Regions from separate parts of the Homo sapiens genome. Here region 2 is linked to region 1. A link means that fine-mapping ties the variant in region 1 to the expression of a gene that starts in the linked region. Tissue or cell type: whole blood. Region 1 holds a variant in brackets; the other region holds the start of a gene. All regions are shown on one strand. Distances are between the middles of the regions.

The links. PIP is the estimated chance that this variant, and not a neighbour inherited with it, causes the effect.
Region 2: it holds the start of MXD4, and the variant in region 1 is fine-mapped to the expression of MXD4 in whole blood (TOPMed, PIP above 0.99).

The regions. Positions count from the first base shown.
Region 1 is chr4:2,279,711-2,285,980 of GRCh38, reverse strand. The region is part of intron 8 of ZFYVE28 (zinc finger FYVE-type containing 28); the gene reads left to right. Among named protein-coding and RNA genes, the nearest start is that of MXD4, 21 kb to the right of the region's middle. RefSeq lists enhancers at 1-13, 14-515, 3,596-3,655, 4,424-4,923, 4,924-5,425. The variant G/A (reference allele first, on the strand shown) is at 3,798.
Region 2 is chr4:2,259,062-2,264,644 of GRCh38, reverse strand. MXD4 (MAX dimerization protein 4) reads left to right here and starts at 2,536. Exons shown (of 6, transcript NM_006454.3): 1 at 2,536-2,728; 2 at 2,821-2,920. The coding sequence starts at 2,665. RefSeq lists enhancers at 864-1,523, 1,524-2,185, 3,417-4,009 and silencers at 1,817-2,656, 2,707-2,766, 2,857-3,246, 3,257-3,316.

The DNA of each region.
Region 1 (6,270 bases):
ACCCTGAGACCGGAGGAATATGGACATTGGAGGGTGCTCCAAGACAATGCGCCAAGACCGGGTGACACATCCAGGAGAGACCTGCGGACCAAGCTAGTGCCTGCCTGTGGGGACCACAGACCCCGGCCAGCTGACCAGGGCGGGGCAGCCCTGAGATCCCGGCTTCAATTTCCCTCCCTCCCGCTGAGCTGTTTCTGGGATGGGCGCCTGCCCTCCTGGACCGGCCCAGCCCTCCTTCCTGTCCCTCGGTTCTGTCCTTCATTCTGGCCCACAGTGGCAGCGGCCCTTCTGAGGATGCCCTGGTCACGGAACAGCATTCGTCTCCTTCTCAGTCCCAGCCTGTGCTCAACCCAGGGGCTGTGGAGCTGCAGTCAGGAGCTGTGGTGAGAAGACTGACTTCCTTGGGAAGGCGAGTCACACAGGAAAACCACGAGAGAGAATGACTTTGCAAGGGGCTGGAGAGGAAAGGAAGCAGGGAGATTCCAGCCTGCTCAGAAGAAATCAGCTTACTTGCTGCTGGAAGTTATTAGGGCTGACACCAGTGCAAAGGCCTGGCAGCCACAGTGGGGCCGGCGCCATGGCGGGGTCAGCGCCACGTGTTAGTTCCCCCGGCTGCTGTGACGAAGCACCGCGGCAAGGTGGGTTAAATCACGAGGGCGTTTGTTGTCTTGCAGTTCTGGAGGCCAGAAGTCGAGATCAAGGTGTCAGCAGGGCTGGTTCCTTCTGGGGCCATAAGGGAGAATCTGTCCTGGGCTGCCTTCCAGCCTCAGGGGGCTTGCTGGCCATCTTGGGTGTGTACTTGGCTTACAGAAGCATCACTCCAGTCCCTGCCTTCAGTCCACGTGGGGTTCTGCCCAGGTGTGGGCCTGCACCCAAATTTTCCCCATGGGTAAGGACACCAGTCAAGTTGGCTTAGGGCCCACCCTACTCCTGGATGACCTTATCTTAACTTTAGTTACACCTGCAATGACCCTGTTTCCAAATAAGGTCACATTTTAAGGTATTGGGGGTTAGGACTTCAACATATGAGCTTGCTGGGGGGCCCCAATTCAACCCCAAACAGCACACTCGCGCCTCCCTGCTAAATCCTTGCCGTACTAGACTCAGGGCACCTGCCAAGAAGAGGGGTCTACCTGCTGTTGGTTTCCGCTGTGGCCTGAGCTGAGCTGGTACGACTTTGGCAGACAGTTCCAGAGCCGATTCCTGGAAGGGTGTCTCAGCCCTCCCTGATCCCAGGACTCACAGAGGAAGTCAAAGCCAGGCCTTGTGCATTGCAGACTCAGCCCCCCGGAGGTCTTTGTGAGGCACCATAAGAGGAGACAAGATGTCCCAGCAGGCTCCAACTCCTCTGGGGAACCAGAGGCGTCCAGGACTGTGGGATTGTCCTGACCTGGTGGCCAGTGTGACCGGGCAGCAAGGCCTTCACCTCTGACTCCTGGGAGGCTGTGCTCAGCCCATCTTGGGCTCCTGCTGCTGAGGTCCTCTCCATCTCATTGGTGAAATCTCCACCAAAATGCTTCCTCTGAAAGCTGGGTTGTCCACCACTGTGCCCCGTCGCGCTCTCCTCCTCCCCATCATGGTCTTCAAAGCCCCAGGCGAGCCACGGTGGCCTATACCTGTAATCTCAGTACTTTGGGAGGCTGAGGTTGGAGGATCATGTGGGGCCCGGAGCTTGAGGTTACAGTGAGCCGTGGTCACGCCACTGTGCTCCAGCCTGGGCGACACGGCCTTTATCACGGTGGGAAATGGTCTCATTTCTGAACACTCATTTGCAGGCTGGCTGACTCCCTCCACTGCGTACACACGTGAATCCGGTCTTGTGTGGCCACATGCTCCACAGCGAGCCTGAGCTGTCGATTGATGTCAATGAATGTGGATGCGGGGGCTCCAAGAAAGAGAGCACCTGTGCTCTGTTCCTCAAACTCTTTTTCCCTCAAGTGTAGCCTACAGGGAATTGCGTTCTGTGGAGCATCCTCTGGGGGCACTGACCAACAGGCCAAGGTCCGAACTGTCCAGCCCTCCCAGTGGGCCTCTGCTTAGCCTCAACCTCTGCCTGGTCTCTCCCAGCATCACCAGGGGGTTCCCTACAGTCTGTCGGCTGCTTCCCACCTCTTGGCTTTCATTCAAGCTGTCCTCATGCTGCGCCTTCCAGGAACCCTCCCTGGCACTCCAGACCTCTCTCCAGCCTGAGTGAGGAGTCTCCCCTCTGACCTCCCACAACAACACCCTTGATGGTTCCTCTGTTACACTTTCCGTGTGTGATAATTAACTGTTCACCTATTGATCTCTGCCATCAAATCGTGAGCTCCTTAGGGCTGAACTGTGCAATTCCTGGATCATAGTTGGTGCTTAGTGCATGTTTGTAGGGCAGGTGGATGGATGGATGGATGGATGGATGGATGGGTGGATGGACGGTTGGATGGTTGGATGGATGGATGGATGGATGGACTGATGATTAGATGGATGGGTGGGTGGATGGATGGATGGCAAATGAATGAGTGGATGGGTGGATGGATGGGTGGGTGGATGGGTGGATGGATGAGTGGATGGGTGGATGGATGGGTGGGTGGATGGGTGGGTGCATGAGTGGATGGGTGGATGGATGATTGGATGGATGGATGGATGGATGGATGGATAAATGGATGGGTGGGTGGGTAGATGGGTGGGTGGATGAGTGGAAGATTGGATGATGGGTAGACGGATTGGTGGGTGGACAGGTGGGTACATGGGTGGATAGATGGATGGATGATTAGTTGGGTGGATGGATGGATGGATGCATGGATTGGTGGATGGGTAGATGAATGGATGGGTGGATGGATGGATAGGTAAATATATGGATGGGTAAATGGATGAGTGGGTGGGTGGGTGGATGGATGGATGACTTTTACAAGAAGCAGCCAGCCCACCATTTGCGTCAGGGCCCAAGGTGGCTCATTAGAATTGGTATGTGGTTGTACAAATGCCCGAGCTGCTAATTTTCCCACATCCAAGCACAATTAAACCTTGCCTCTGGAGCCTACCAGTCACTCTTGATGTTCTTTGTTTTTGTTTTTTATTTATTTTTCTTTAGAGATAGAGTCTTGCTATGTTACGCAGGCTAGCCTTGAATTCCTGGGCTCAGGGGATCCTCCTGCCTCAGCCTCCCCGTAGCTGGGACTACAGGCTGTTTTTCTCTTCATTAGCCTTTGCAAATGGTTTCAAGAGTTCAAAAATTAATGTATCTGATGTCATAATGAGAAACATACTGTGATGCTGTTAGTCTTTCCAAAGTTGGCATTCTCTTCTTTCACAGACTCCTAGAGGTTCAAGGTGGCAAAGTCCTGTCTTTCTGTTTGCATACTCACTTGCTAAATTTGCTGCATCAGATTCATTTGGGCTTTGCTATGGTCTTTCTTTTCCATAGTAATTGGAATTAAAATTATAAGTTCAGTAAACTTCCCTCTTCTGCTCTATCCAATTGCTGAATTCAGACGTGTTCCATGTTCCCAACATCTCAGAGGCTCCCCTCACCACTTTTCCCACCCCAATGATGACATCAGCCATTTATCCCCCCTGTGTGCTGTTCAAGAGGAGCACTTTGGAAACCTGGCCACTGTCCTGTGGCCTAACTGTGACACAGCTGAAGACACAGGCTGGGCAGCCTTTGGTATTGATGTGACTGTTTAGAATTGCACTGCCTTTCTTTACCAGAGAATGACATTTCATAGTAGTTCAAACCGAAGTGGGGCTGTTGCAGGGAGTTTTTGCTGCCTTCTGTAAGAGAGTGGCAGGAAGCAACATTCAGGCAGCCGGTGCGG[G/A]AGTGTCTGGCAGCTGCAGAAGGTGGCTGGACTTTTAGACATCCGGGTGAACATGCTGAAGTGACGTTGATCCACTGACTTGAGAACATCAGTGACAAGGGTTCAGACTCTGTGGTGAGACACAGGAAGCTGTTGGCAGGGCAGGTGCCCTTCACTCTTCTAGCCTCTGCTTCTCATGGCTCCCTGTCTTTCTGTGACTTGAGCTGTGGCTGTATCTCACCCGTACTGTTCCCTTCCTCACCACAGGGATGGACCCGCTGGGCACCAGCTCACTTCTCGGCTCTGTATTGTTAATGTGTGTGGCTCCCCCACTAGACTTGGCTTTTGGGGGACACATAGTGTCTGATCTACCCCTGAGGTCCTCCTCATGGCCCTACCCTGTCTGTTCAGCAACTGGCCACAGGGGATAAACACCCTTCCAAAGGCAGTGTTCCTGGGCCACTGGCATCCAAACAGTGCCCCCTGCTGTGGTTTGAATGTGTGCCCCAAAGTTCATGTGTTGGTAACTTAATCCCCACTGCAACAGCGTTGAGAGGGGGGACCTTAAAGAGGTGATGAGGTCATGAAGGCTTTGCCCTCCTGAGCGGATTGATGTTATTGCAAGAGTGGGTTTGTTATTGCTGCAGTGGGGTCCTTATAAAGGGTGAGCATGGCCCCCTTCCCCTCTCTCTTGCCCATGCGATGCCTTCCTCCATGTGGTGACATAGCAAGAAGGCCCTAGTCAGATGGGGCCCCTCCACCTTGGGCTTCCCAGCCTCCAGACTGTGAGCCAGAAACATGTCTGTTCATTATAAATTACCTAGACTGTGGTACTCTGTTATAGCAGCAGGAAGCAAAGGAAGACACCCATCCACATGGCCCCAGGAATGGCTGACCCAGAAGGACCCAGGCTCATGCTCTCGGTGAAATCCTGGGTTCTACCTCCCCACTCTGCTCTCTTGTTCCCTTTGGCCCTTCCAAGCCCAGCCGGTTCCCTTGGGCAGTACCTCATTGGTTTTTCTACCTGTGACATCTCTGTATGGGGCCCCTTGGCTCTCTCTGTCCACCCATTCCCCCTCCCACGCCACCAGAGCTTCCAGCCAACCAGGGCAGGGAGGCAGGAGAGGGCCTTTCCTGTGGCAAGTGAAGGGTGTCTGGGGTTGAGATGGCCATCAGCGATCTGACCTACCCGTGGGCAATCGGCCAGCCTTGGCCTGGCCTCGGTCTCAACCTGCTGGTAGAAGCCATTGTTCTTATGCCACACTCAACTCTCTGTTGAACGTCAGGGCCCTTCCCCTGATTTCTCATCTCCAGGGGTGCTTCAGTAGCAGGATGCTTGTCCAGATAGCCTTCCCAGCTTCAGGGTGTTGGTCCAAGGGGCTGGAGCTGCGGGGCTGAATACTTCCCATGGGCTTCTCCTTTCACAGGGAAACAAGTTCCTCGCCACAGGCAGGGCCCGAGGGTGCCATCTGCTGCCAGCAGGCACTTTCCTTTCTTCTTGAAATGGCATCTCTTCTGATCACAAAAGCAATACTTGATCCGCGATGAGACTTTAGAAAATGATAATTTACCTGTAATCTTACTACTCAAGTAAGTGTAAGATTAATGCCTTACCTTGAGTATCTTCCCCAGTGTGTCATTTATGTACATATGACATCTCTAATTTTTATTTTTATTATTTTATTTATTTTAAGAGACAGGGTCTTGCTCGTTGCCCAGGCTGGAGTGGAGTGCAGTGGTGTGATCACAGCTCACTGTACCCTTGAACTCCTGGGCTCAAGCGATCCTCCCACCTCAGCTTCCAGAGTAGCTGGTACTACAGGTGCACACCATCATGCCTGGCTAATTTTGGATTTTTTGTAGAGACAGAGGTCTTGTCATGTTGCCCAGACTGGTCTTGAACTCCTGGCCTCAAGTGATCCTCCCGCCTCAGCCTCCCAATAATTGTTGGGATCACAGGCATGAGCCACTACACCTCGCCTCTAATTTTTTAAATGCTACATTTTTCATTTCATATTTTAACATTTCCAGTGGACCATCCTTCTGGAGATTGTTTCACCATAGGGATATGACCTAATGTATTGAGTCAACCCACTGTTGATGGACATTTAGCTTATAAGCTATTTCTTGCATATGAGTTTGCTGGGCGATTACAAGAAAAACATTCTCTTCTGTTGTTTGTGAGATGTACAGCTCAGTAATTTGTGGTACATCCATGAGGCTGTACAGCCAATATCACTGTCTAATTCAAAACATTTTCATCACCCCATAAAGAAAAACCCTCCCCATCAGCAGTCACCATGTTCCCCTCCCCCTTCAGCTGTTGCGACCACGGTTCTGCTTTCTGCCCCTATGGGTTTCGCCTGTTCTAGACATTTCATGTGAATGGAATCAATCATACAGTATGTGATTTTTTTTTTTTTTTTTGAAGGAGTCTCACTCTGTTGTCAGGCTGGAGTGCAGTGGCATGATCTCGGCTCACTGCAAGCTCCGC
Region 2 (5,583 bases), 21 kb after region 1:
TGGGCCAGGCCAACATCACCTCCAGGCCTCTCCTGGCTGCTCCCTCCCCTTCCCTCTCCTCCTGCCATTGCTGGCCGATGCCTCCAGTACCTCCCTCCCTAGCTGCAGCTCAGCCCTCAGTCATCCATCGCCTCCTGCAGCTTCTCCTCCCAACCCCAACTCCTTCCTGCTCCCCCAGGCAGTGGTGCCCACACTACCAGGCAAGGTTTGAGCCCAGGGACACCAGGGAAGTGCTTGGTCCTCAGTGTGGTGGGGAGGTGAGGGTGAGTCCTTAAATGGCCTAAATTGAGGCTAAAAATCTCTTAGACTGGGGTAGCATGCAGGTGCCTCCCCATAGACACACCTGCGCACCTGTGCTGCCCACTGCCACACAGAACAAATCTCTTGGCCCATGGCAGGAAGGGGGCGTGCACTATGCCCAGCAGGTGCACTTGTACTAGGCCAGGTGTCCGCTTTAGCTGTCGGCAGCAACTCACCCAGTGGCCAAAGCAGGGATGGGGCAACTTTGCAAAATGCTCATCCCCAAGTGGAGAGCTGGGTCCCCAGAGCCCAAACACACCCTGCTCCTCCCCAGACTTGGGCACCTTTCTTTACCATGCACAGCTCTGAGCAGCCATGCAGACAAACCTGGAGGGCCTCAGTGCTGAGTTCTTGTGAGGGGCTCTGCCTTGGGCCCTGGCGTCACTGTGGGGCGGGAACAGGAAGGGCCCCTGCTAACATCAAGGGGGTTGTCTCAATGTCCATGCAGGGCTGTCTCATAGCAGTGTCCGAGTTCCCCACTGGGTCCTGCAGGGCTCTGTGGGAACACACATTATTCTGAAGCCCACACCACAGGCTTACACCCAGCAGGACCAGCCAGGCCAGGAGGCTCTGGCCTCTGCATTCCTATAGCCCTGAGCCGTGTGTGGCAGCACTAATCTCCATTCTGCTGAGATTTCTGGGAGACCCCAGCAAATCCCTGAGCGTCTAGTCCCATGTCCTGATCTGCAAGCCGGGCATGCAAAACACAGGGAGATGCACACGAAGCTTTCACAGGAGTCCTGGTGCTGAGGTTTTGCATTTTTTGTTCAGTTTCATTGCCAGCAGCAGCCCCTGTGTCCCACTGAGTACTTCTGGAGGGGTCCAGCCACCTTATGCCTCCACACTCTCCAGCCTGCGGGGCCTGGCCCTTGGCACATCCAGGCCACCAACCTCAAAAATCAAATCAGTGAGATGGGTCGGGCGAGGTGGCTCACACCTGTAATCCCAGAACTTTGGGAGGCCGAGGCGGGCGGATCACGAGGTCAGGAGATCCAGACCATCCATGGTGAAACCCCATCTCTACTAAAAATACAAAAATTAGCTGGGCGTGGTGGCACGCGCCTGTAGTCCCAGCTACTTGGGAGGCTGAGGCAGGGGAATCGCTTGAACCCGGGAGGCGGAGGTTGCAGTGAACTGACATCACGCCACTGCATTCCAGCCTGGGCAACAGAGCCGTCTCAAAAAAAAAAAAAAAAAAAATCTGCGAGAGGGTGGGGGGTGCCGAGGCCAGTCTGGGCCAGCCTTAGGGTCAGGGGTCACTAGGGAGACCCGCCAGCTGGGATTTGATGAAGGGTTCACTCCCGTCCCCACTTAGGGCGTCCTCGGCCAGAGGTGGCCAGCGCCTGCCTCTAGGAACGTCCCTGCCCCTCAGGCCAGACACAGAGCATGCAGCCCCCCACTCCGGGGAGCCTCTCGACTCTGGCCGCACGTCTGTGTCCCTTCCCCAGACCTGGGCCCTCCCTCAGCTCCGGCGTCCACTGGGCGATCTGAGGAGCCCGCCCGCTCTGGGCCTGTTTCCCCACTGACACCCTCAGAGACGCCTGGCTCTTAGGATCAGAGCGTCTGCGTCCCTCTCCGAGGTCCCGGCCCTTCCCGGGGCCACTCTGCGCCCGGCGGGGAGGGGAGTCGTTCACGGCCCCACGCAAGACCCCCGGGCAGAGCGCGAGGCCTCGTCCCCCCACGCAGCCACTGCTTTCGTCGCGCTCAGACCCGGCGGCCCGGCCCGGCCCGGCGCACGCCCCGGAGCGCCCTGCTTCGCTCTCGTAGCGGAGACGCTCCTGCGTCCTAACGGGCCCCCAGGACGGCGGGCGGTCCCCGCGCGCTGCGCTTCCTCTCGGCAACGCGTCCGGCTGCGGCGCCCTCATTGGCCGCGCGCCCCGCCACCGGCCATTGGCTCGCAGTGCCTGTTTTACATAGGCCGCTCTGGCCAATCGGCGCGCGGCGCCTACTTAACATGCACGGCGGCCGCCAGTCAGCTAGCGCGGGGGCCGGGCCACCACGTGCTGTTGCTAAGCTCGGGCTTCTAAATTGTTACTAGCGCGGCCGGCCTATCCCAGCCCAGCTCTGCATCTGTCAACATTCTCGGCCCGGCCCGAGGCGCTCGACCCGTCCCCATTGGCCCCAGCCCGGCCCGGCGCCCGCCCCCGGGGCGCGAACGCCGCCTCCCATTGGCTCTGCGGGCCGCCGCTCTCCCTTATGTGTCAATTTGAGGGCCTGAGGCGGAGGGTGGCGGCCGAGCGCCGGAGTCCGCGGAGTCTGGAAGTGCGGCGGCCGGGCGCGCGGGGTGGGCGGCGAGCGGAGCCGGCCGGAGCGGGCCGGGCAGCGGCCGCCGCCGTCCCGGGGCGGACGGGCGCGGGCGGGAGGATGGAGCTGAACTCCCTGCTGATCCTGCTGGAGGCGGCCGAGTACCTGGAGCGCAGGGATCGAGGTAGCGCTCGCACCCCATTGTGCGCCCGCGGCGGTGGGCGGGCGGCGGGGCCGTGCCGGGCGGGGGCCGCTGACCGCGCCGTGTGTCCGCAGAGGCCGAGCACGGCTACGCCTCGGTGCTGCCCTTCGACGGCGACTTCGCCAGGGAGAAAACAAAGGCGGCCGGCCTGGTGCGCAAGGCCCCGAACAACAGGTACCGCCCCCCGCTCCCGACCCCGCCCGGCCCGGTCCGAACCCCCGCCCCCGCCCGGAGCGTGCTCTCCGGGCCCCGATTCCCGGCCCGCGGCCCTCAGCGCCGCCGCCGCGCGCCCCGGCGGCCAGCCTGGAGGAGGAGGCGCGCAGGCCGCGGCCGCAGCCCCGCCCGGCCGGCCCCGCCCTCGCCGTCGCCATCTTCCCGCGGCCGCGCCTCCCGGGCCGCTCGCGTAAACAGTGCCACGCGTACAGCGCCCGCCGCCGGGGTCCGCTCCCGCGCCCGCTCCCCGCCCCCGAGTTGTTCTGGACTTTTCCAGGCGGTAGAAAAGTTGTCAGCGGGCGCTGGCCGGTGCCCCGTGGGTCTGGGGAAACAGGCTCAGCCAGGGTCTGCGGGGGCTGCCGGCCCTAACCCCTTCTCTCCGCGGGTGGGTGGGCGGCCTCCTTTCGACTGGCTCTGCCAGCCGAACTCTGCTGCTCGGCCACCTTCCCCCGCCCCCAGGAGCCTAGACAGAGAAGCGAGTGGAGGCGCTGTCCTGGGCCCTCACTCCTCCCAGGGTGCCCACCGCTTCTGCCCAGCCTCCTGACACAGCGAAACTCCAGCCACCAGTATGGGGGTCCTCTTTTTTAAGACAGAGGCCTTTTAAGGGGGCGGGAGGAGGGGGCAGGCTGCAGGGCAGGGGCCCCATGAAGTCGTTACTACGGGTGCCAGCTGCGCCCTCCATACCTTGACCTCGTGTTCAGGCAGCAGAAGCCCTGAAGCTGGGGTGCGTACAGGTCCCCCGCGTGGGGAGTGGGGACCCTGGGCCGGGGCTCCCCGGGGATTTCCACCCTCCTGGCTGCTGTGAGGACCATAGCACACCTGGTCCTGTCTGGGCCCACCTTGGCCCAGCCCTTTTGTGTGAGCAGGCTGGGAGCTGCGTTTGTAGGGGGCTTCAGAGCCCCAGGGCATGGCTCATTCCTGTGGTCCACCTGTTCTAGGGAATCCGAAAGGCTGGTGTAGGGACCCATTTCTGTGGCATCCTGAGCCAGGCGAGGAATTGGTTGAGTCTCCAGCTGCCCTGGCTGGGACCCGTCCCTGAGTCCCAGCCCCTGGTCCCCTACTGGGGACAGTTTGGGGAAGGACAGGAGTGTGACGAGGGAACCATTGCCTCAGGCCTCCTCAGTGAGCAAGCCCGGCCCCCGCTGCCGCTTCTCTCCAAACCAAGTCCCTGACCCGTGGAGAACTCTGGGGCGTGAGCTGGGGCTCCCCCAGCATGGAGAATCCAAAGCTGACAACCAGCGTCCTGGCCAAGGCTGCCCGAACACTGCCTCTATGCTGAGCGTTTCACACATGCAGCCAGTTCATCTTCACCCCAGGCTCAGAGAGGTGATGTGATTTTTATCTCTATGGCCAAGGAAACTGAGGCAAGGAGAGGTTTGGTTACTTGCCTGCCACTCACCCATCTCTGATGACGCCTGTTCCTGAGATGGGGTCCCAGCTGTCCACATTCTGCTGGGACAGAGACCATGGGGGCACTGGTGAGGGAGACAGAGGGCTCCCCAACTCTGGTGCATCTCCCCTGGCTCCTCTGGGCCGAGCCCCGCTCCCCCGGGGCCTGAGGCAGCCCAGGGCTGGCGGCTTGGCCCCTTCCTCGGGTGGGCAGCACTGCCCTGGAGGTTTCCTCAGCCAGCCCAGACAAGTAGCTGGGCGGAGCAGGGGGCCAGAGGATCTCTGAGCCCCTGACTTGTCCCCACCTGTGAGGCTTCCATGCTCTGCCAAGGTGAGGGAGGGGACATGGCACAGTGAGGCTGGGGCAAGGGTAGGGAGTGGGGCCGGAGGACAGTGTCAGGGTTGAGGGAGGCGGCAGAGCACTGGGGCCAGCCTGCAGGGGGGTCCATTCTGTGGGAAGTGTGCTTGTCTCCTGGGGTCACGGGAATGCTGGGAACGCACTTGGCCTGGCCTCAGCGGGGACAGGTCCCACCTCTCCTGAGGGATAGAGTGCTCCTGGGACCCATGTTGCAAACATCCCCCTCGATGGACCCCAAGGGTCTCTGGGCCCAGGAGGAGCTGCAAGAGGGGCCCTGGCTGCTGGAGGAGGGCCCCCTGCCTCCAGGGTGGGGTCCAGCCCCGTGCCACCCTTCAAGGGGTAGGCAGGTAGGCTTTTATGTTGAAGGGCACCTGCTGACCCCGACCTCCCTCTTGACTACAGACCCACGTGGCCAGGCTGCAGTTTGGGCTGAGGACAGAGAGTACGGCTCATTCCTGCGGCCTGCCTATTCTGGGGAAGCAGAAACGCTGGCGTAGGGGCCTATCTCTGTGAGGCCAGTGAGGAGCATATGGCTGTGGCCTCTGCTGGCCCTGGTCGGCCCTGGCTGGCCCTGGCAGTGATTCGGAGGCTCCTTGTCCAGCCCATGTGACCAACAGGCCCTCCCGGACCCTGAGACCTGGGTCTGGAGGCTCTGCTGAGGCTACACAAGGAGGCCCAGGGCCTGTTGGTGCAGCGGGTGGGAGGGGCAGGCCCTTGGCCTGAGTGGTTGGGACAGGAGACGCCAGATCCCAAGTTCCTGAAGCAGGCAGTGGTCAGCAAGAAGCTTCAGGAAGGAGCCAGGTCCTGAGGGCAGGGAGAGGCCTCAGGGCTGGGTCTGGAGGTGCCCCGAGGCAGTCTGAGCTCTCTGCCCACCTGT